2 separate regions of the Homo sapiens genome follow, and region 1 is linked to region 2. Evidence: fine-mapped expression QTL. A gene starts in region 2. The other region holds a variant in brackets. All regions are shown on one strand. Distances are between the middles of the regions. Region 1 overlaps CENPQ (centromere protein Q). Region 2 holds the start of CENPQ (centromere protein Q).

Region 1 (14,843 bases), 31 kb after region 2:
ACCAGCATTGGTACGTTTTGAGGAAGTGTTCATGTACATCTCCTTATTCCAGGGAAATTAGATATCCTTATAACACATTAATACCTTGACATACCAGCTTTCCAAGAAGTCTCTTTTTTGAAAGAAACAAAAGTAAATTCACCAGTTGCTTCTAAAAATGTTTTAAATATATATGGTGTTTTTTTAAAATGTGTATGTATAACAATATCTATTAGGATTTAATATAATAATGTGTTTAAGTTAAAATGTTTTTTTTCTCTTTCTGACTCAGGAAGAAATAGATAAAATGGTAGAGACCACAGAGTTAATGACTGGGAATATTCAGAGCCTAAAGAACAAAATTCAGATTCTGGCAAGTGAGGTGGAAGAAGAAGAGGAGAGAGTAAAACAGGTAATTATTTTAAACTGTATTATTGGAATTTGGATATAATTTTTAATGGTTAAATTATGCAAAGATAACTTTCGAGTATAATATGATGAGAGAAATCAGCTTTTTGAAATAATCTGTAGCTTTCTTCTACTTTAGATGCATCAAATAAATAGTAGTGGAGTACTCTCTCTTCCGGAACTTTCTCAGAAAACTCTCAAAGCACCCACACTTCAGGTAAGTGCCTATTTACCATATTGATTACAGGCATACTTTAGAGATGTTGCAAATTTGGATTCAGACCACAGCAAAAAAGCAAATACTGCAATAACGCAAGTCACACAAATGTTTTGGTTTCCCACGGCATATGGAAGTTATGTTTACGCTATACTGTAGTCTAGTAAGTGTGAAAAAGCATTATTTCTTTTTTTTTTTTTTAAAGGGACATACCTTAATTTAGAAAACGCTTTACTGCTAAAAAATGTTAACAATCATCTGCACCTTCAGCAGGTCGTAATCTTTTTGCCAGTGGAGGGTCTTGCCTCAATGTTGATGGCTGCTGACTGATAGCGTGGTGATTACTGAAGGTTGGGATGCATGTGGCAATTTCTTAAAATAAGAAGACAATGAAATTTGCCACATCAGTTGATTCTTCCTTTCACGAAAGTTTTCCCTGTAGCATGTGATGCTGTTTCATAGCATTTTACCCACAGTAGAACCTCCTTCAAAATTGGAGTCAGTTCTCTCATTCCTTGTCACAGCTTTGTCAGCTAAGTTTTTGTCATATACTATATCCTTCATTGATATTTCAACTATGTTCATAACATCTTCATCATGAATAGATTCCATCTCAAGAAACCACTTTCTTTGCTCATCCATAAGAAGTAACTCCTCGTCCATCCAATTTTTATCATGAGATTGCAGCAATTCAGGTACATCTTCAGGCTCCACTTCTAATTCTGGTTCTCTTGCTGTTTCCACCACATCTTCAGTCACTTCCTCCACTAAAGTCTTGAACTTCTCAAAGTCATCCATGAGGATTCAAAATTGAATCCATTTTTTCTAAACTCCTGTTATTGGTATTTTGACTTCCTCTTGTGAATCATGAATGCTCTTACTGACATCTAGAATGATAAATTTATTTTAATATGTTTACAATTTATTTTGCCCAGATCCATCAGAGAAATCACTACCTAGGGCAGCTATAGCCTTATGAAATGTATTTCTTAAGTGATAAGACTTGAAAATTGAAATGACTCTTTGATTCAGAGGCTGCAGAACAGATGTGTTAGCAGATGTGAAAACAACATTAATCTCCTTGTATATCTTCATCAGAGCTCTTGGGTAACTGTGAACATTTTCAATGAGCAGTAATATTTTCAAAGGAATCTTCTTTTCTGAGCAGTAGCTCTTAACAGTGGGCTTAAAATATTCAGTAAGCCATGCTCTAAACAGTTGTACTGTCATCCAGGCTTTGTTGTTCCATTTACAGAGCACAGACAACACAGATGTAGTTGATTTAGTAGAATTAAGGACCCTGGGATTTTCAGAATGATCAGTGAGCATTGGCTTCAACTTCATGTCACCAGCTGCATTAGCCCCTAACAAGAGCCTAACAAAAGCATCTCCTTTAAAGCTTTGAAGCCAGGCATTGCCTTCTCTTTTCCAACTATCAAAGTCCTAGAGATAGCATCTTCTTCCAATAGAATGCTGTTTTATTTACATTGAAAATATGTTGTTTACTATAGCCACCTTCACCAGTGATCTTAGCTAGCTAGGTCTTCTGGGTAACTAGCTGTAATTTTTCTATCAGCACTTGCTGCTTCACCTTGCACTTTTTATGTTATAAACACAGCTTCTTTCCTTAAACCTTATGAACTAACTTCTGCTAGCTTCAAACTTTTCTTCTGCAACTTCCTCACCTCTGTCAGCCTTCATAGACTTGAAAACAGTTAGGGCCTTGCTGTGGATTAGGATTTGGTTTAAGGGAATGTCGTGGCTGGTTTGATCTTCCATCCAGACCACTCAGACTTCCCATATCAACAATAAGGCTGTTTTGCTTTCTCATTATTCATGTATTCACTGAAGTAGCACTTTAAATTTTCTTCAAGAACTTTTCCTTTGCATTCACAACTTGGGCGTTTGGCACAAGAGGCCTAGCTTTTGGTTTGCGTGGCTTTTGATAGGCCTTCCTCACTAAACTTAGTAATCTCTAGTTTTTGATTTAAAGTAAGAGACATGATTCTTCTTTTCACCTGAACACTTAGAGGCCATTGTAGCATTATTAACTGGCCTAATTTCAATATCGTTGTGTCACAGGGAATAGGGAGGCCCAAGGAGAGGGAGAGAAACTGGGAAATAAATGGCCGGTTGGTGGAGCCGTCAGAACACATAACAATTACCAATTCAGTTCACTGTTTGATATGGTTGCAGTTATGGCACCCAGAACAATTACAGCAGTTCCATCAAAGAACACTGGGCATAGATCACCATAACAGATACCGTAATAATTTTTAAAGTTTGAACTATTACAAGAATTACCAAAATGTGATGTAGAGATACAAAGTGAGCATGTGCTTTTGGAAAAATGGTGCTGATAGACCTCCTTTGCACAGAGTTGCCACAAACCTTCAGTTTGTAAAAAATGCAGTGTCTGGGAACACGGTAAAATGAGGCATCCTGGTATATCATAGACCAATTATACATTACATATATGAAAACATTATGTCCTATTTCGTTCTTTAAACAAATGGAACCTGATATAAACTGTTTGGCAAATTACTTTTCTCATTCGACTGTATAGTTTGAACATCTTGTCAGTCACGTAGATCTCTCATTTTTGTTGATAGCTATGTAACATTCTGTTGTATGGAGGTCATATAATTTGTAAATTACTGATGGAAATACATAATTTTTTTAATACAGGTAAGACTGGGTACACCCTTGTACATATGTCTTTACTGATTTGTATAGTCATAATTGTAGGATACATTTCTAGAAGTAAATACTGACAGTTTGGTTTTTTTAATGCTTCTAACAATAGCATATAACTCCTTATAAAATAGTACTGTCTTATTTGTAGTAAACTATTTCTTCCAAGGGCTCTAGTAGACATTGTAGTATAAATGTTTGTAGCATTGGAAAGTCTTCATGTTTTCTCAAGAAGTAATTTGAAATTTTCCTATTGGCTGGGCACAGTGGCTCACACCTGTAATCCCAGCACTTTGGGAGGCCAAGGCAGGCGGATTGCCTGAGGTCAGGAGTTCGAGAACAGCCTGACCAACATGGAGAAACCCCATCTCTACTAAAAATACAAAATTAGCCAGGTGTGGTGGCACATGCCTGTAATCCCAGCTATTCGGGAGGCTGAGGCAGGAGAATTGCTTGAACCTGGGAGCTGGAGGTTGCAGTGAGCCAGGACTGCGCCATTGTACTCCAGCCTGGGCAAGAAGAGCAAAACTCCACCTCAAAAAAACAAAAACAAACAAACAAACAAATCCTATCATTTACCAGTGGTGAAAGGAGCAGGATGGGGAGAGGGAGAGATAGATTTGAAAGAAGAATGGCGATTCGTTGACAATTATTGAAGTTGGATGATAGATACTTAAGGTTTATTTTACTGTTCTCTCTAACATACATTTGAGATTTCTCATAATAAAATGTTAACAACTACATTTAATACTATCTTTCCCACAGAAAGAAATTTTGGCGCTAATTCCAAACCAGAATGCTCTTCTAAAGGACTTGGATATTCTTCATAATTCATCACAGATGAAGAGCATGTCAACCTTCATTGAAGAAGCCTATAAGAAACTGGATGCATCTTAAAGAGTGTTTTTTTTTTAGATTGTTCCATATTAATTTAATGTTCGTGAATTTGTAAAACTGTTAACCTATGATTATATGTACAGAGGCTAAGGCTTCTGCAGGATTTATTATCTCCTGATATGCACTTTAAAATTAGTCTTTGTAGTTCTATCATTAGCATCTA[A/G]TGTAGTTCTGAAGACTGTTTTTAGCAGTTGCCAAATCTAGGAAACTAACATTTATATTGCTGTATCTATAAGTATTTGCCTAAAACCATAAAATAGGAATTGCCTTAAGGATCTAGTAGTTTATAATGCCTGAATGGAACTCATTTATTGGTTAACAGCTCATATCAGGAGCTGTGATAAGTAAGTGTTTACATACACTGTCTAGTGCATAAAAACCTTAGTGTTTGCTATCATTCATTCTGTAGCCAATGGCTTACAGTTTCTGTCTGGTCATCTGGAACTTGAAAAATCCTCAAATGCCTTCACTCTTTTACCTAACTCCCTAGTCTTTTTGGGAAGTAGTTAAGATATGCCTGCTATCTTTAACTTTGGAGGTAGTATCAAAATTTTACTTCTTTGGTTGTTTAGTGAATTAATGTTGAATATTTTCTACTGTCATCAAAACATATTCCCAAAAAGTATTAAAAAGGAACCTTAGCACATTTATTTTATTAAAACAAGAAAACCCAAAATATATAAACCTTTTCTTATTATGATAATAAGCTTATATATGTGAATAAGTTATAACCTAGTGTATAAAAAATTATTTCTAACAAACTACAGTATACTGTCTTGGGTTTTTTTTTTTTTTTTTAGTCTGTAAAATAAAATGACTGCAATTACTTTTTTATGTGACCTATAATATCAGTTAATTTGGGAGATGCCATAATTCTGTTAACACCCTTCAGGCAGAGACCACTGGCAACAAACCTGTAGTTAAACAAGTTGGGTTTTCAGTGTAGTGAGGAGATCACACATGAGGACCCTGGGGCAGCTCAAGAAAAGGGTCACAAGCAATATCCTCATAGGAATAATGGTAAAGAAGGCCTATTAATAGATTTTGGAGGAAAATAAAATCTCAAAGAAAAACCTGGCAAAGTGACTAAAAGTAAAGATTATTACAAAATGTCTTAAAAACCCTTCACTTGGAAACTTAAAGCTTCATGTTTTTAGAATGAGTAGTAGAGCCCTAACTCAGTGATTTTTAACACTAATGTTATAGTAGCTTTTGGTGGTGGGGGAGGAATTATGTATGCCATTTCTCTCAGGGCATCTGTTTAACAGATAACTGATAGTTAACTGGGATTTTAACTTACCATTGTTGCTGAGTGATACAGTTCTTCACCCTGTGTGAACTGGCCATACTACTCTTGTAGCTTTGAAGAGTTTATAATCTAACTTTAAGAGATCTACAATATCTTCTGGTAGGTAGCATCCAATCCAAAACATACACAGTATTTTCTTTAAATAAGACTGCATTTTGGTGTACTCTTTGGAAAGAATTTAAGAATTAATTACAGATCTGTTATGGTTTGCCTAGGGTTTATTTGGCCCCACCAACCTCATGTTGAAATTTGATCCCCAATATTGGAAGCGGGGCCTGGTGGGAGTTGTTTAGATCATGGCGTGGATCGCTCATGAATGGCGTGGTGCCATAGATGCTGGTGCCATGCTTCTTGTACAGCCTGCAGAAACATGAGCCAAATCTCTTCATTAATAAATTACCCAGCCTTAAATATTCCTTTATAGCAACACTAAACATACTAAGAAAATTGGTATTCAGGAGTGAGGCATTGCTCTAAAGATGCCTGAAAATGTGGGAGTAGCTTTTGAACTGGGTAATAGGCAGAGGTTGGAAGAGTTTGGAGGGTTCAGGAGAAAACAGGGAAGACAAGGGAAAGTGTAGAACTTCTTAGAGATTGGTTAAGTAGTTGTGTACCAAAATGCTTATAGAAAAAGAGACAGCAAAGGTCATACTGAGGAAGCCTTAGATGGAAATGATGAACTTATAAGTTACTGAAGCAAAAGTCACACTTGTTACACCGTAGCAAAGAACTTGTCTGCATTGTGTCCATGCTCTAGGGCTTTATGGAAGGCTTCATTTAAGAGATGGCCTAGGGTATCTGGGAAAAGAAATTTCTAACCAGCAAAGTGCTCAGGCTGCTGCATGGTTACTTCTAACTGCTTACAGTAGAGACCAGAGGAAAATTGGAAAATGTGCAGCCTTGCCTTGTGTTAGAGAAGGAAAGAAGAGTGTTTTTAGGAGAGGAATCTAAGAGTATGACCAAGCAGCAGCAATAGTTTGCTAAAGAGATGAGCATGACTAAAAAGGGCCAGGTGCTAATAAGACTATGGAAAAAATGTCTCAAAGCTATTTCAGAAATCTTTGCCACCCCTCCCATCACAGATTAAGAAGTTTAGAATGAAAGAATGGCTTTTTGATGGGGCAGGTGATACTGCTCCCCACACCCCAGCGGCACCAGCTCAAAGGGCCTCAGGCTGCTGCTCTGGAAGGTGTACCCAGTAAGCCTTGGAGACTTCCATGTGGTGTTAAGTCTGCAAGCATGCAGAATGCAAGAGTAGTGGAGACTTGGCAGCTTCCACTTACATTTGAGAGGATGTATTAGAAAGCCTGGGTGCCCAGAAAGAAGGCTGCCACAGGGTCTGAGAGCCTCTACTAGAGAAGTGCCTAGTGGAGCAGATGGAGCAGGGGCACCACTCTCCAACCTCAGAATGGTAGAGCCACCAACAGCTTACAATCTCAGCCTGGAAGAGCTGCAGGTATTGGATTCCAACCCACGAGAGCAGCTACGTGGGCTGCACCCAGCAAAGCCATGGGGATGGGGATGCCTGAGGCTCTGGAACCCACCCCTTGAACCAGTGTTCTTAGGATGCGGGACATGGAGTCAAAGCAGATTATTTTGGAGCTTTAATATTTAATATCTGTCCTGATAGGTTTGGGACTCACATGAGGCCTATTACCCCTTTCTTCTGGCCTATTCCTCCCTTTTGGAATGGGAATGTCTGCACCACCACTGTATCTTGGAAGTAAATAACTTCTTTTTTTATTTTACAGGTTCACAGTTGTAAGGAACTTGCCTTGAGTCTCAAATGAGACTTTAGACTTTTGAGTTGATGCTGGAACAAGTTAAGACTTTGGGGGATGGAATAATTGTATTTTGCAATGCAAGAAAGACATGAGATTTGTTTTTCATGCCACCAAATCTTATGTTGAAATTTGATGCCCAATATTGGAGGTGGGGCCAGATGGGAGAAATTTGGGAACAGATCCCCCATGAATGGCTTGGTGACATTCTCCCAGGAGTAAATAAGTTCTCTTGGTTCCCATGAGAACTGCTTGTTAAAAAGCCTAGCATCTCCCCATCTCTTTCTTGTTTTCTCTCTCACCACATGATCTGCAAATGCCAGCTCCCCTTCACATTCCACCATGAGTAGAAGCAGCCTGAGTCCCTGGCCAGAAGCAGATGCTGGCACCGTGCTTTTTGTGCAGCCTACAGAACGATGAGCCAAATAAATCTCTTTTGTTTATAAAATACCCAGCCTCAGGTATTCCTTTATGGCAACACTAAAGAGACCCAAGACAAGATCCAAATAAAATTAAACTGCCGGGCGCAGTGGCTCACACCTGTAATCTCAGCACTTTGGGAGGCTGAGGCGGGCAGATCACCTGAGGTCAGGAGTTCGAGACCAGCCTGGCCAACATGGTGAAACCCCGTCTCTACTAAAAATACCAAAATTAGCCGGGCGCAGTGGCGGGCTCCTCTAATCAGGAGGCTGAGGCAGGAGACTCGCGTGAACCCGGGAGGCAGAGATTGCAGTTAGCCCAGATAGTGACACTACACTCCAGCCTAGGTGACAGAGTGAGACTCCATCTCAAAAAAATAAAAATAAAGAAATAAATAAACTTTGACTATACATGGTCCCAATAATTCAAATAACAGTCCTCCTCTGTAGTGACCTCAGCCATCTAAGTTCTCCCATGCACAGCCCATGCCAACTATGATACATCTCTTCTCTAGTGACTGATAAATGCCAATGTCAGAAACTTAAACAATAACAAAAAAAATACACTTTTGAGATAGAGGATATATTGTATTAAAATGTAGCATATGATAAAGATGGCATTTCAAATGAAATACAGAAAAATATTTATTAATAAATGGTCTTCATAAAACTGGCTAACTACATAATGGAGGGTGAGAGGATGTTTAATATTCCTACTTTATGCCTAAGTACATTCCCACTAAATAAAGTTAAATATAAAAATAGAAGCTAAAAAGAAAGAAATGAACAGTGGATGTCAGGGTAGCAAATGCCCTATTATGCATATAAGCAAAAGTAAAATCATGAAAGATTATTACATAATATTTTGAACTTTTTGAAATAAGATTTTTAAAAATACAAAACCGGCCGGGCATGGCAGTTCATGCCTGTAATCCCAGCACTTTGGGAGGCCGAGGTGGGTGGATCACCTGAGGTCAGGAGTTCGAGACCAGCCTGGCCAACATGGTGAAACCCTGTCTCTACTAAAAATACAAAAATTAGCCGGGCATGATGGTGCATGCCTGTAATCCCAGCTACTCAGGAGGCTGGGGCAGGAGAATCGCTTGACCCTGGGAGGCAGAGGTTGTAGTGAGATGAGATCGTGCCACTGCACTCCAGCTTGGGCAACAGAGTGAGACTGTCTCAAAAAATAAAAAATAAAAATAAAACAAAATCAAGCCAAAGACACATCACAAATAGGAAAATATCTACAATATAAATAAAACAAAGAAATAAAACTTTTTTAAATAAAGAGCTCTGAAATATCATTAACAAATAGGTTAAATACAAATAGGAAAATGGGCAATTCTCAAAGGAAAACATCCATAAGTATTTGAAAGATGATCAACCTTAACTTCACCATTTAAATGCAAATTAAAACATATTTTCACCTATCAAATTGACGAAGACGGGAAAAAGCTGAAAGAAAATTGCTGAACATACTGAAAAATGGGCACCGAGTACTTGTGCTAAAGGAAGGTGAATTGGTAGAACTGTTTTGAGAGGCAGACTTTACAGATATGTTGCAGAACCTTAGTGTAATGTCGGCCACTTCAAATTCTTACTTTATATGAGCCCTTTGATTTTCCCCAACTCCCAGTTGGGCATATGTTCAACAAACAGGCTTTGTTTAAATACGAGCCACCTGCACTGGAACCTAAAATTAAAGGATTTACTTTTGTTTATTTGGTTGGATAGAATTTCTTGGCATTCCCTGTTTACCAAAAATATGCAGTTGCACCTGTCAAAATTAGTATTTGAGTTATACGGGTTGGCTTAGTTTCTAAACATAAGTCTAAATCCTCTCATGTTTCATTCATTGTTAAGAAATATTTAGCTTTGAGAGAGAGAAGGGAAAGAAGGCAAGCAAAAGCAGAGAGAAATTTTAATTTCTCAGTTGGGTTTTATTATGTCAAAAAGTGAGCTATTTTTGTTTTCTAATTCGCAATTTTGGTTAAGAGTTGTTACTAAATGTGTTTCTTCACAACTAAGCCACCATAGAACCAATTTTTCTTGACTTAGGTGTTTGCTGTCTTATTAAAGTAGCCTCTGTTCTTATCAGGGCTGTGAAGTTGCTTTAGCAACCATCTCCAAAATTGGATATAGTAGTTGTTAAAACTAGACAAAGAAGAAGATAAAAGAGGGACATTTTCTGAATTCATTAGAACTACAATAGAGCACATTTTTAAAATTAAGTTGTTCATTTTTTTTAATACTTTAAGTTCTAGGGTACATGTGCACAACGTGCAGGTTTGTTACATATGTATACATTTTTAAACTAATAGAAATAAATGTGCCTTAGCCAATTTTGCCCCATTTCTACCCCCTAGAGTTGTCCTTAAAATTACTGTAAGTTTTCAAATAGTACAACAGGGATATAAGACAGTCATAGCAATGAGAAAAATGGCTGACATTTATTGAGTGCTTGCTACATGCCAGGTACTAGTCCAATGCCATTACCTATATACATGTATTTATGCCAATGTTTAATCTTAATGGAAACCCTATGGGAATTAAACCTCATAACATTCATTATTATCTCCATCCTGCAGGTGAAGAAACTGCGGCACAGGGAGGCTAAATAACTTGAGATCACACAGATAGTAAATGATAGAACAAGGAAGTGAAAAAATAATTGAACCTTTTCTTAGGAGTTTTCTGATAAACTACAAGTAGAAGGGGCTAGTGAATCTAATGAGTAACCCCTATTACAGCAAAGTACAATCTGATGTATTTTTCTGAGTAAAGTGATAATATGTATTGCGGATTTGTTCACCTGGGTTTTCAGAAGACAATTCCTTTAAATTAATCTTACATTGGGAATCTCCTTTTTTCCTCCTTTTTCCGTTAATCTCAGAGTTAAAAGTTTGCCTTAGCCTAATATATATACATATCTCAAATTTAATTACCTTCAACCATACTTTCCAGGAAAAGGAATGTTTTGCCTTTTTATTATTTTTTTCTTCAGGCAAAAATTAGTTCCAATTAGTTCTGATGTTTTATAAAGAACAAAGAGCTCAAATTTCTGTTTTAAATGCACTTGGAAACAAGACGTAATCTAAATTTGGGGAGACTTTTACATGTCTCAGAGTTTATAAATAACCAGACCCCAAACTTTTTAAAGTTTCCCCTAGGATATTGCACTTACTGTCTAAAGGAGTTCCTGTTTTGCAAATAAAAAAAAAGCTTAACTTTTAAAAAATATATTTTACTCAGTTAATATTTAGAAAACTATATTTATATAGGCTCCTTAGGTCCAAGAGTAGGTATACTTTGTTCTCAGTAACATCTTTTAAAAAAGAAGTTATCAATGTATACAGCAAGATCAAAAACTCTTATTTTGACATCTAGTAATTGACATCTAATACAATTTCTCCATTTGCTGTCAACTACTAGCTGCCCATTGTATTACAAAGCTCAGTGTCCTCTAGTGAAGAATGCCCTACCTTACCATTTTATGAGACCTAAATGTGGTAAACAGAATCCTCCCATCTAACCACATTCAAACTGAAGCACTCTGCATATGCCGTTGAGACATTTGTGTTGCATATTATTTCAAGATGTAGATATTGAGTGCTGAGATGTCCAAGTAAATACTTACATGGTGGTTAAAATTGCAGTCTTTTGAAAGAAGTGAGTAAACTCTGAATGACTTTTCATTTAAAAGAATAGGCTGAAGTAATTAAAATTCTTGAAATTACTCTCATGTACTTATGTATCCTCTGTAGAGATTACCCCCTTTCAGCCTTGGAAGTTTAGGGCAGCAAAATCATTTTCTTCAGAATATATAAAAAAATAACTAAAGGGTCAATACCTTTATATTACTTTCTTATCGTACTACCATTTGCCTGGGCTCCTCTTCTTTTTATTCTCCTTCATGAGATACTGATTAATAGACAGGTTTTATGGCTAGAAAATACCTATCTCTAAATCAAGATTAGTATTCATTGGCTTTTACACCATAAGGCTAAATGTGATAAAAAGGAAGAGATGGAGTGGAAATGCCTGTGCTCTATGTGAGATGATTTTCACCTGATCACCATCATAAACTCCTCCCCGTCTACAGGTGTGGGCACTTTTTTTTTTTTCTCTCCCTCCTGTTTCCACTAAGGGCTAATTAGAGAGGTAGCCTTGAAGAATAAACTTACCATTTATATAAAAGGGCTACTGGACTGATACACAGCTGAAAACCCTCAGTTCTGGACTGAACTCCCAGCAGGTAAACATTTATTCATTAATATAATACATTTCAAGTCATAGTTTATAATTGCAGAAAGGGATGGGAAAAATAGAGAAGAGATGAAATCCAACCTTATACAGAACGAATACATTGTAATTAGGTTTCAAGGAAAGATATATTTTGTTTTGTTTCTTGGCGTGTTTTTGTTTGGGGTTTTTTTAACTCCTAAATTTTGATATGAGGAAAATTTTTACTCTTAAATTTTGATGTGAGGAAAATAAGTATTACCAAGTATAAATTTGTTTGCATTGTGATATGGGCACAACTAGAGCAACCTCTCTGAACAAAAATCCTAACATATGAAAAATAATTACTAGCATTGGATTCCAAGTGCTTAAAAAAATGTATTTCCTCATTAACAAATGCCCACCATTATATTGTAAATATTGTATTACATTACAAAAACAGAGATCTTATGTTTTATTGCTTATAAGACTTAAAAGTCTCCCAGGAGAGTGTCATGCTTTCATTGTTATGATAAATATTAATGAATAAAATATTTTAGATGCTTGCTCTGTGCTTATAAACACTCAAATGCCCCCAAAGAAACTTCAGTTTCTAAAACTTACATGAGCATAATTCTTTTTCTTGACAAATACTTTCAAACAGTGAGTCTATTGGTTATAATTTGGTTAAAGGAGTTACCAACCTTTAACTTCCAATTCCAGAACATACTGATTATGGACAGTACTAATCAAGTGGTAAGGATATGACATTCTGCTCTTGTAGCTTTCAGAGTTAATCGTCATTATGACTCTCTAACATGTTACAAAAATGTGTAGAAAATATTTTCTGCATCAATGAGAATTTCTGCTCTACCTTGTGGCATTAAAAAAATTTCTATTTAATGAAAGATCCTTATGAAATGAATCACTGTTTACTGAAAGGGTATTGTCAAATGTAGATTAATTGTAGTGTCCTCTCTGCATGAACCCATGGGGGAATGTCTCTGATTTTAGTTTGTCACCCTGAGTAATTTGTGAGTTGCATGAGTATAGTCTAGAAGGGTAAGTTGAAGCCAATTAAGTAGAGGTTTTGCTATTAAGAAGCTGGAGGCCAGGCAGGGTGGCTCACACCTGTAATCCCAGCACTTTGGGGGGCCAAGGCAGGTGGATCACATGAGGTCAGGAGTTTGAGATCAGCCTAGCCAACATGGTGAAACCCCCCATCTCTACTAAAAATATAAAAAAAACTAGCCAGGCGTTGGTGGTGTGTATCGCGGGAGCTGGCCAGCAGCCCGCAATGCAACGGGGCTCTCTCTTTGTTCCTAGGTGGATTGGCAGGTCGAGAAATAAGAGACTCACACAAGATAGTGAAAGCAGGTCCCGCGGTGCCGCCAATGCACTGACTATACCAGCATTTATTATTAAGTTTAGTGAGGGCAGCGGTAGGTTAGTGAGGGATTTAGGGTCATTTGATTATGAGGTGAGATGGTCACATGGGGATGAAGTAATTCTTTAACATAATATCTGTATGCAGAAGTACAGTATACAGAGATAAGAATTTACAATATAGTGTGTGCATCAGTAATTTCTAACAGAGCCTTAAAACAGAAACACAGTCTTTCCATAACCTATGATTAGCAGGATATTAATCAGCAGTAACAGTTGCAGCAAAAGCTGGTTACAAACAATCCATAGAAACAGGATGTGAAGCTAGACAACTAGTTAGACCAGAAATCCTCAGAAGGAAATATGTCTTAACCCTAAAGAGGCCTAGAAGAGCTGTGGCAAGATGAGCGTGTTATAGCCCTATCTTATCCATATGGACAGGCACCCCTCATTCGTCCATTTATAGGCTATCCACAAGGGTCGCATTCCATTCCCAGAGCTATGAACATCTGCTTTTCTGGGATAGGAATCTTGGTGATGTGAAACCTCCCTGAATGCACATCCATTCATAGGCTGTCTGCAGGGGGAAGCACATCACGTGCTATTGGTTCATTCTGGCAGTCCAACCTGGCATTGTCTTTACACAATCCTGCATGCAATTTTGTATTTACAATAATCAGGAGCATTTCATCTTTTACTCCATAGCAATAGTTTCAGGGGGTCTCCCTACATCTCCTCCTTTTCTCTGATTTAAATGAACCATAGCAATCATAGCTTGGCACTGATCATGATTGGATTGAAGAATATTTTTTCCAATTTTGTATATGAACAATAAACCAATAGCACAAATTATACATAGAACAAAATTAACAATAGTGGATCCTCCCAAGGATTTTACCCATTGAATGGGGTTGAGATTAGATAACCCCTCAGATACACCGTCTAAAACTTCAGCACTGGGTAAAGCAGTTAAGTGTGCTTGACAGGCCTCAAAAATCTGTGCTTTTAGCTTGCTTATGTCTAAACTTAAATTATCTTCACTTCCTTGTAAATGGCATTTTACTGATTCCCAATTGTGAACAGACTCATTACATTGAAACGGATTTATAGAAAATCAGAAGTATTCCAATCACATTGCATTTGAAATCTATGTTCTAAACTTATAATTCTTATAATTCTATCTCCCATCCAGATAACAGTTTGTCAGGTTATTAATTTGATTGGCCAATTTTTGATCAATACCTGACTGAGAATTCCACATCCAAGTAGAATCTTTTTGCCATTTATCCACAAAATGAACAGTTTGAATAGATTGATGTAATGCAACTCCAGCAGTAGCAGCAGTCACAGTAACAGCAATCAAACCATTATTACTGCAATTAATGTAAAAATAAATAATTTACTCCTTTTAATAATTTTCTGTAGAATATTATTAATAACATGGATAGAAGGGGAAGATTCCCAAGGCCTATGTAAGGCTACGGGAAGCCAAATACCTTCTCTGGCTCTGACTACTAAAATACTATGAT
Region 2 (10,019 bases):
TTTCAGCTGCTTTTTAGCCAGGGCAGCCCATTCTGGGTGAAGGGGCTGTTGCTGGTGTAGAAGTCGTTGCTGTATGAGCCTGGAGCCTGATGATTCTTTTACCTGCCTCAGGTAATGAGGTGAAAGTAAAAAAAGCTGATTCTTAGCTCTTAACATGGTGGAGCATGGAAACACCCAATAGAAATAAGAACTGACCTAGAAAAAGAAACATAGAGTAAAAACATTTAGAAGAGGGGGTGGGAAATAGGAGCTACTCATAAGAAAGGAACAGAAAAGAAAGAGGATGTATTAGTCTGATTTCATTTCTTCCCCTTTTCTGCTTCCTGCACCTGATATTTTATAACTTTGGCCCCTCTTCTTCACAATTACTATCAGTCCTGTAGTTTCAGTCTTTTTCCTCAGTAGCCTCTTAGCTGGTCTTACTGACCAGTCTTACTCCTTTTCTACTCCATTCTATACGAATCCCTTCCATACAATGACATCAATGTAAATATGACTATGTCACACTCCTCATGGAATTTTTCAAAGACTCTGTATCATGTGGAAGATATACTACAGCCTCCTAATTAATTTTTTCATTCAAAGTGCTTTTATTAAATATCAGTTTATGACCGACATTATGTTGGGTAATAGAGAAAAAAGTGATGAATAAGACAAACAGGCATTCAAGGCCTTCATGAACTGGTCTCTGTTTCCCCCTCAGACCCATCTCTGTCTTTGTCCTCTTTATGCATTTTGTGCACTAGAAATACTGGATTACCTACAGTTGGCTGCACATATGTCAAAGTTTTCTGAATTTGCTCTTGCTCTTCCTTCTGCCTAAAATGTTCTTCTCTGGCTAATTCAGCTAAGGCATTATCTCCAATTTGCAGCGTTTCTATGTGCCAGTAACATAGAAGGCTATAAAGACATCACAGAGAGTAGCAATTTTAATCTTTACAATACCCCTAAGAGGTAGGTACTATTATTATCCTTATTTTACAGATTAGGAAACTGAGGCACAGAAGAGCCAGCATTGATTGGAACCTATGCAGCCTGTTTCAAAGTCCTTGCATTTAACTAATATGCACACAATTCATCCCAGAACCCATAAGGTGAGCTAAATGGCCTCTTCAATAATCTACTTCTGTGCTAGTTTATAAACTGCTCCAACATTAGAGCTGCATATTCCGGATAACTAGCATAGACTTTTATACTAGGTTGCTGGGTTCAGCGTCATCATTTTCCAGATGTAGAAACTGAGGCTCAGAGAAATAAAGTCGCTTGATCAAAATCCCACCTCACAAAGCCGTAAACTGTTTACCTGAATTACTAAAACTTGTCAGAGTCATACAGCGTAAACATATAGAGCCCATTGTTTAAAAAGATATTGAGATGCAAACATTAATATATTCACTATACTATGTGTTTTATACTGGATAAGGCAACAAGTAAAGGGAGTTTCAAATTTTATTTTCCATACCACTTCTTACCTATCAGTTTAGTAAAGCTTAAATGAAATCAATACTCAACACTTATTATGGGGTCGTTAAACAAGAGACATAAACCACTGGTGACAGTATTAACTATTTTAACTACTTTGGAAAGTAAATTGTCAATATACATGAAATGCTTCAGAAATGTTTATGCCATTCCACTGAGGAACATTACTCCTGGGAAAGCTTCTGTAGTAATATATAAAATAGATGTTTCCTATAGTTTTATTTGTAATAGAGAAAACTTAGGAAAATCGTAAGTATCTCATAACATATGAATAAGTGAATTACAGCATATACAAATGATAGAATTTCATGTAGTTATCAAAATATGTTTAGAAAGCTGGCAAAACTAATCTTTGATGTCAGAAGTCAGAAGAATGGTTACTTAATGGTTGCTAGAATACAACAGGAGCAAGAGAGGGGCTTTTGGGGGTAATGGTCTTGATCTGATTGCCACTTACATAGATATATTCTGTTTGTGGAAATTCATCAAATTATACAGTTATGTTTTATGCAGTTTCTGTAAATATATGTATAAGTAAAAAGTTAAAAATGTGTTATGCATAGTTTCCCAAAAAAAGAGAAACAAACTCAAAAAGTAGTAAGTAAAAGACTCAAGACACGTAATTGTAAGTGCAACAGGTTCAACTATGTAAAAAGTACATAGAACAAAGTCTAAATGGAAACATAACAAAAAAGGCTGGGCATGGTGGTTCACGCCTGGAATCCCAGCACTTCAGGAGGCCGAGGCAGGTGGATCACCTGAGGTCAGGGGTTCAAGACCAGCCTGGCCAACACGGTGAAACCCAGTCTCTACTAAAAATACAAAAATTAGCTGGGCATGGTGGCGCACACCAGTAATCCCAGGTACTCAGGAGGCTGAGGCATGAGAATCACTTCAACCCGGGAAGCAGAGGTTGCAGTGAGCAGAGATCGTGCCACTGCACTCCAACCTGGGCAACAGAGAGAGACCCCGTCTCAAAACAAAACAAAAAAACCTTCCATTTTTTTAATACTAGCACGATTTTTATTCTTTAAATCCATGGGGTCCTTGTCATCCATCTTTTTGCAAGCCATCCACTACATTTACTAGCTTAAAAGGTGGATGAAAAAAATAATGAAGCAACAACTAAACTGTTTCAATAGTAATCCTGTAAAAGGTAATTTGAAAACCACCTGAGACTAAACTGTTGGCAGGAAATATCACACTCATTTCACGTGGGCTTTCCTAAATCTGAACAACTAATAGGAAAGAGCCCCGTTTAAGTGACTTCCTGAAAATCACATGTGAATTGGTGGAGGCTGGAAACAGACACCATTTTTAGATAAAAACACAACTACTGCGGATGGCAATACGACCTCTGAATTTTCTCAGAAGACCATCAAGAGAGGCCTCAAGCATTCAAAGAAGCAACATGCAAAGCAAATATGTTACTGACAACTAAAATGAGTTAAAGAGCAATGATTAATCCCACCCCCACACCTCAAAAACAAATCAGTGAGAAAAAGATTTCTTGAACCAATAAGTTTCAAGCTTTGGCTGCTGACGTATGATTGCACATTAATACTTCAAGAAGGTACTTTGATGTTCAACTAGTTGGGTTTGGAGATGGAAACATAGGGCATGAAAATTATATTTGATATTAGCATAAGTACATCATTAAACACAAAATTATATTGGCAGAAAATCATCAAGTGGTTTAAAACTTTACACACATACGTTATCCAGGGCTTCGAGCTTCCCTAAGACCACCTTCTTTCTAGATAAAACTGAGAACGAGTTAGTAATGTAAGCTTTTATGTCAATTTAGACCTGTCTTTTCTATTCTACCTCTCACTCTTAACACTGTTTACACTCTTAATCCTGTTTACACACAGAAAATCACTTTTATTCCCGAAAACTCTTAGAAAAACCCTGACAATAACATAACCCACAACCTAGAAGGGAGGCAGCCATGAAGCAGGCGCATCCCTTTGGAACCATACAAAAAGTGACCTCTGCCAACGGGAACAGTTCAGGGTGCTTAAGTGGCCAAAGAAGATACCGACATGGCCCCTAAAGTATTAAAAGCACCTTCTTTCCAGAAGTACCTCCGAATTGCCAGGGACTTCGCCCAAAACTAGAGGTTGGTCGAAGTGAAAATCTAAACCTAAGGAGAAGGCAGAGAGTGGGATCCCGTCACAGTAGGAAGGTAAAGAAGACAGAAGTAAAGGACAGAGCGGGAGAGAAAGGACAAAAGTTCAAAATACAGGGGTAGAGGAGGGACAGGAGCCAGAAGAATGGAGCGATCTGAAAGGTGTACGTCCTACTCACTGGTAGGCCTGTTTTGGACTCCGCTGTGGGAGAGGGCGGCTGCACTTCTGCGTCCCCCGCCTCACCTGTCAGACATCCACACAGCCAGGCCTCCCCGCCCTCACCAAGCCCACACAAACCGCGCCACCGCCAGCGTCAGCCGGACGACTCTGGGGGCGTAGGCCGACACCGCCCTCCCTCCAGCCAATCTAATAGCGCTCTCATGGGCGCATTCCTGATGACGTTTAGGGGTAGGGTTAGATGCCCGTTTCCGCTTTCTTCCCACCCACTTCCGGGTCTCCTCTGTTTACGAATGTTTGGGCGCGAATTACTCTAAGCGCGGCTCTCAGAAGGGTGCAAGAAGAATCAGTGGTGAGTCGTGATATCCTTAACCGGCTGGGTGGATCTAAAGTTCAGGGATGAGTTTTAAAGCCAACGCGTTTGTGGCAGACTCCGCAGTTTGCATTTGAGGATAGCGAGGGGGGATTGCTTACGGGGAAATGCCCGATGTCCTAAAAGATCTGCCCTTAGGATCCTGAGATTGAGATGTTTGATTAGGGGGGAGGGAGCAAAGCCATGAATACTTCCTATTTCTCCCGAATCATCCTCATGGCTCATCCTCATTGCTAAATTTCTCCCGCGGGCACTAGTGAAGTCAAGTGCAGCCTTGGACATTAGTGTCTGTGTTTCTCCAGGAGTCCTACTCACTCTTGTGCCCACATAGAGGTCTAAATTGAGGTAATTGAGTCCCATGAGTATCAACAAGCTGGTAAGAAAAACAAGACAACCTAGAATGCCTCCCTCTCTCCTAAAGCATATAGTCTGGCGGCAAACTACTGTACCAGCCTTATTTCTTTTCACTTCTCCTATACACATTAAAAGCCTCGCTGGATTATCCTGTCCCTGAACACGCCAGGTTTTTTGTGTTTTTTCCGAGCTTTCCTGCCGTCCGAGTTTTACTGTTTTCCCTTGGATGCTTCATTTTTCTACTTTTTGGCTAAATATTTCAAAATGTTATTAGAATAATACTTTTTCTATGAATAATGTACAAACATACTTCCGAGATATTGCGGGGTCGGTTCCAGACCAATAAAGCCTGTCACACGATTTTTTTGGTTTCCCAGTGCATATAACAGTTGTATTTACACTGTATTGTAACCTATTAAGTGTGCAATAGCATTATGTGTAAAAAAAAATTACATGCTGTAATTTTAAAATATTTTATTGCTAAAAAATGCTACTAATCATCTCAGCCTTCAGCAAGTCCTAATCTTTTTGCTGGTGGAGGGTCTTGCTTGATGTTGATGGCTGTTGACCAATCAGGGTGATGGTTGCTGAAGATTGGAGTTGCTGTGGCAGTTTCTTAAAATAACAAAATAATGAATTTTGTACAGCAGTTGACTCTTCCATTCACTAAAGATTTCTCTGTAGCATGTGATGCTGTTTGAAAGCATTTTACCCACTGTAGAACTTCTTTCAAAATTAGAGTAAATCCTCTTAACCCCTACCATTGCTTTAGCAACTAAGGTTTTGTGATATTCTGAATTCTTTGTTGATATTTCAAGAATATTCACAGCATCTTCACCAGGGGTAGATTCCATCTCAAGAACTTCGCTCATTCATAAGAAGCAACTTCTTTTCCACTAGTTTTATCATGAGATTGCAGCAATTCAGGTACATCTTCAGGCTCCACTATTTCTCTTGCTATTGCCACCAGATCTTTCATCACTTCCTCCACTGAAGTCTTGAACAAAGTCATGACCTTTACAAAGTCATCCATGAGGGTTGGAATCAACTTTTTCCAGACTCCTGTTAATGTTGATATTTTGACCTCCTCCCGTGAATCATGAATGTTCTTACTAGCATTTGGGATGGTGAATCATTTCCAGAAGTTTTCAATTTATTTTGCCCAGATCCATCAGAGGAATCACTGTCTAGGGCAGCTATAGCTTTACAAAATGTATTTCTTAAATAATATAACTTGAAAGTCAAAATTATTCTTTGATTCATGGGCTGCAGAATGGATGTTGTGTTAGCAGACATGAAAACAGCATTAATCTCCTTGTACATCTCTATCAGAGCTCTTGGGTGACCAAGTACGTGGTCATTGAGCAGTATTATTTTGAAAGGAATCTTTTTGTGAGCTGTAGGTCTCAAAGATGGGCTTAAAATACTCAGTAAACCGTGCTGTAAACAGATGTGCTGTCACTCATGCTTTGTTCTTCCATTTCCAGAGCACAGACAGAGTAGATTTAAAAGAATAAGAGCCCTAGGATATTTCAGAATGGTCAATGAGCATTGGCTTCAAGTCACCACCCATATTAGCCCCTACAAGAGAGTCAGCCTGTCTTTTGAAGCTTTGAAGCCAGGCAATGACTTCTTTCTAGATATGAAAGTCCTAGATAGCATCTTCCAATAGAAGGCTGTTTTGTCTTCATTGAAAATCTGTTGTTTAGTGTAGCCCCTTCATCAATTATCTTACCTAGAACTGGATAACTTGCTGCAGCTTCTGCATCAGCACTTGCTGCTTCACTTTGTACTTTCATGTTATGCAGATAGCTTACTTCCTTAAACCTCAGGAACCAAGCTCTGCTAGCTTCAGGCTCTTTTGCTACAGCTTTCTCACCTCTCTCAGCTTTCATAGAATTGAAGTGAGTTAAGACCTTGCCATGAATTCGTCTTTGGTTTAAGGGCGTGTTGTGGCTAGTTTGATCTTCAATCCCGGACCACTCAAACTTTCTCCCTATCAGTAATAAGGCTGTTTTTGCTTTCTTATCATTCATGTCTTCACTGGAATAGCACTTTAAATTTCCTTCAAGAACTTTTCCTTTGCATTCACAGCTTGGCTAACTGGTGTAGTTTCCAGCCTATCTTGGCTTTTGACATGCCTACCTCACCTTGCTTAAACATTTCTAGCTTTTAATTTAAAGTGAGAGAGGTGTGATTTTTGCTTTCACTTGAACACTTAGAGGCCATTGTAGGGTTATTAAATGGCCTAATTTCAATATCATTGTGTCTCAGGGAATAGGGAGGCCTAAGGAGAGGGAGAGAGGCAGGGAACAGCCAGTTGGTGGAGCAGTCAAAACACAACGCAACATTTACCTATTAAGTTCTCTGTCTGATATTGGCATGGTTCATGGTGCCCTAAAACAATTACAGAGTAACATCAATCACCATAACAGATATAATAATGAAAAGGTTTGAAATATTGTGAGAGTTATCAAAATATGACACAGAAATGTGAAGAGTGAGCACAATCTGTTGGAAAAATGGCATCAATATAGTTGTTCAGTGCAGGCTTGCCACAAACCTTTAGTTTGTAAGACAACAACAACAAAATACAGTGTCTGCGAGGCTCAATAAAGTGAAACACAATAAAAAGAGTTATGCCTGTACATTCTTACCCATAGCACAAACCAGTTTAAGACAGTCATTCGCTCACTTGCCTCTTTATAACATTTATAAATACACATAGTAATTATTTTCATATCTGTCTCTACCTGTGCACTATCACTAAGCTGTGGTTTCCCTTGGATCTAAGAATGGGACAAAATACCTATTCATTTTTATATGCACTGTGAGTAGCCCAGAAGTGATAGAAACAATGTCTTTTGTTTATTGGATTCTTACTATGTCTCAAATACCGTTCTAGGTGGTTTATATATTCTTTGTTACATCATTTTTGCTTTACAAAAGCCTTTAATGTTAGTACTTTTATTAATCGTTTTACTAATGGGGAAAATGAGTTAATTTACTGGCCCAAAGATATACAGTTAATTAAGTGGCAGGGCTAGATTTGGAGCTTGAACAATTTACCCTCGTTGCAGGACTGCTCTTAACCATTATGGTAGTGTTCTCAACCTGGGTTGATTTTGACCCAGGAGACATTTGGCAATGTCTGGAAACAATTTTGATTGGCTCTACTCAGGGGTTGGAAGTATTCTAGCATCTGACGGTCTACGTAGACCCAAGCATGCTGCTAAACATCCTACAATACACACCACAGTCTCCACAACAAAGAATGATCCATCTAAAATGTTAATAGTGCTGAGGTTGAGAAACTTTGTGCTATAGTCTAGTGCCTCAAGTAGGTTTCATTGTTAACAGTACTTCTCAAACTCTGTTAGACCAGTTTTGCTTTTTATTTCTAATCAGTCATAACTGATACTTTTGTAAAATGCAATTAAAAATCAATTATTAGTCAAACTCCCTTGTGGTATAATACCAGGAGTGAACTCTGATGTAAACAATGGATTTTGGGTAATATGATGTGTCAACAATTACAGCAAATGTACCAGTTTGGTGTGTGATGTTAATACTAGAGGTTGCAGGGAATGGGGAAGGGCAGGGATTATATAAGAAGTTTCTGTATGTTTTGCTCAATTTTCTGTAAACCTAAAACTGTTCTGAAAAAAGTCTTTTTTAAAAAAATACTAATTACTAGAAAATGATATGGCAAAGACAAGGCTAATTATTTTATGATAAGGTTCAATGTGCATAAAATTACTCTATCAAATTGCTACAAAAGTTTCTAAATGATTACCTTCAATTTCCACACTTGATTATGGCAAACAGTTTGAATGAGATTTGGAGTAGCGCTAAATTACATGTTATTTTAATAAAGAATATCAAGAAGAAAATGATTAATGGACCCAAGCTATAAATAAGTACCAAATGAGACAGAGCAAAAGAGCCACAGACTTAGAGAGAAATGAAGTAGAATAGTTAGGAAGATTTTGAAAAGAAGGTGGCTCATGATCTGAGAGGGTGGGCAGAGACAGAAGAGAGCTGCTCAGGTAGAAGGTACAGTGTATGTTTGGGAGGCAGAATTACTCAAAGTGTGTTCAGGAAATCATCAAATCTAGCTAGAGAGGGAGATTTGATTAAGGAGTAGTAGGAGAGAAGTATGAAAAGGTAGGCAGAGTTAGGTTGGTAAGGACTAAAAATGGCATGGTAAAGAGTTTGAATGTTACACAGAACGTATTGGGGTAAATTTTTTACTCAATTAATTTGTTCCAAAATTTGGGATTGGGAGGGACTAGGCAGGGCTTGCTCATGTCTTGTCCACACAGTGTGGGCTGCAGCATATTGACTTAGGTACATGTACCAGACTGGCCAGTTGGTGCTGGCTCTTGGCTGGGAGCTCAGCTAAGACTTTCCTGGGGTTTCAGTTCCTCTCGGTGTTGGCCTTCCTCCTATGGTGGTGGCTGGGTTATAAGAGCAAGTGTTGGCCGGGCTCAGTGGCTCACGCCTGTAATCTCAGCGCTTTGGGAGACCGAGGCAGGAGGATCACTTGAGGTCAGGAGTTCGAGACCGGCCTGAACAACATGGTGAAACCCCGTCTCTACTAAAAATACAGAAAATTAGCTGGGCGTGGTGGGGGGTGCCTGTAGTCCCAGCTACTTGGAAGGCTGAGGCAGGAGAATCGCTTAAACCTGGGAGGCAGAGGTTGCAGCAGTGAGCCGAGATCGCACCACTGCACTCCAGCCCAAGCGACAGTGCAAGACTTCTTAAAAAAAAAGCAAGTGTTTCTAAGCAAGAAGAAGTCAAAGTTGCCAGTCTCTTCATGTCTAAGCCAGTAAGCTAGAACAGAATCACTTCTACTATATTCTACTGCTCAAACAGCTTCAGAGTCTGCCAAGATTTAAGACAAGGGAACATAGACCTTACTGCTCATTAACAATCATGAGAAGGAATGTGTACCATTTTTAATCTAAAATCTCAGCTGTTACTTGTCCCTTCACCTGGATGCTCTTATTCAGTGAACAACTTGAACTATTGTACATGTCAGCCCTTCCAGGAGAGATCTACAAGTGAAATTCTGTCATGTGGATGGGTTTTTAAGTAGGGGAAGTATAAGGGTGTAGATGTAAAGTTGAGGTAATTAGGCATTTTAGAAATTGAACACAAGATAGAGAATGAGTGTTTGGTAAGGTATCACATTGTTCAAGAGCAGGGTAAAGTGATATTTTGACTTCCACTGCTTTTTGTAACTGGTGTGATATGTGGTTGCTAAATGTAGTTTGTGATCTTTCTGTTAATTCTTTCCCAATTTTTTTTCCAGTCTTGTGTGGAGGGGAGTTTGAAGCTTTTAACGTTTGAGAGGATAGATTTATCATTGTCTTTCTCTAAATCTGCACATATATTTAAACTGTATCAGTATAATAATTCTGAATGTTTAGAAAATAAATGATGAATAATTTATCTGTATATCTAGCTATGGCTAATATGTGTATATGTTTATATGT

What was found. PIP is the estimated chance that this variant, and not a neighbour inherited with it, causes the effect.
Region 1: its variant is fine-mapped to the expression of CENPQ in fibroblasts (GTEx, PIP above 0.99). The same link has a PIP of 0.9 or more in subcutaneous fat and tibial nerve.

Annotation. Positions count from the first base shown.
Region 1 is chr6:49,488,081-49,502,923 of GRCh38, forward strand. It overlaps CENPQ (centromere protein Q), which reads left to right. Exons shown (of 9, transcript NM_018132.4): 7 at 272-391; 8 at 527-604; 9 at 4,064-5,027. The coding sequence ends at 4,195. GLYATL3 (glycine-N-acyltransferase like 3) reads left to right here and starts at 11,843. Exons shown (of 6, transcript NM_001010904.2): 1 at 11,843-11,962. The variant A/G (reference allele first, on the strand shown) is at 4,359.
Region 2 is chr6:49,459,311-49,469,329 of GRCh38, forward strand. It overlaps CENPQ (centromere protein Q), which reads left to right and starts at 4,060. Exons shown (of 9, transcript NM_018132.4): 1 at 4,060-4,143. MMUT (methylmalonyl-CoA mutase) reads right to left here and starts at 3,943. Exons shown (of 13, transcript NM_000255.4): 1 at 3,793-3,943; 2 at 1-195. The coding sequence starts at 156. RefSeq lists enhancers at 3,126-4,026, 3,613-3,682, 4,027-4,926.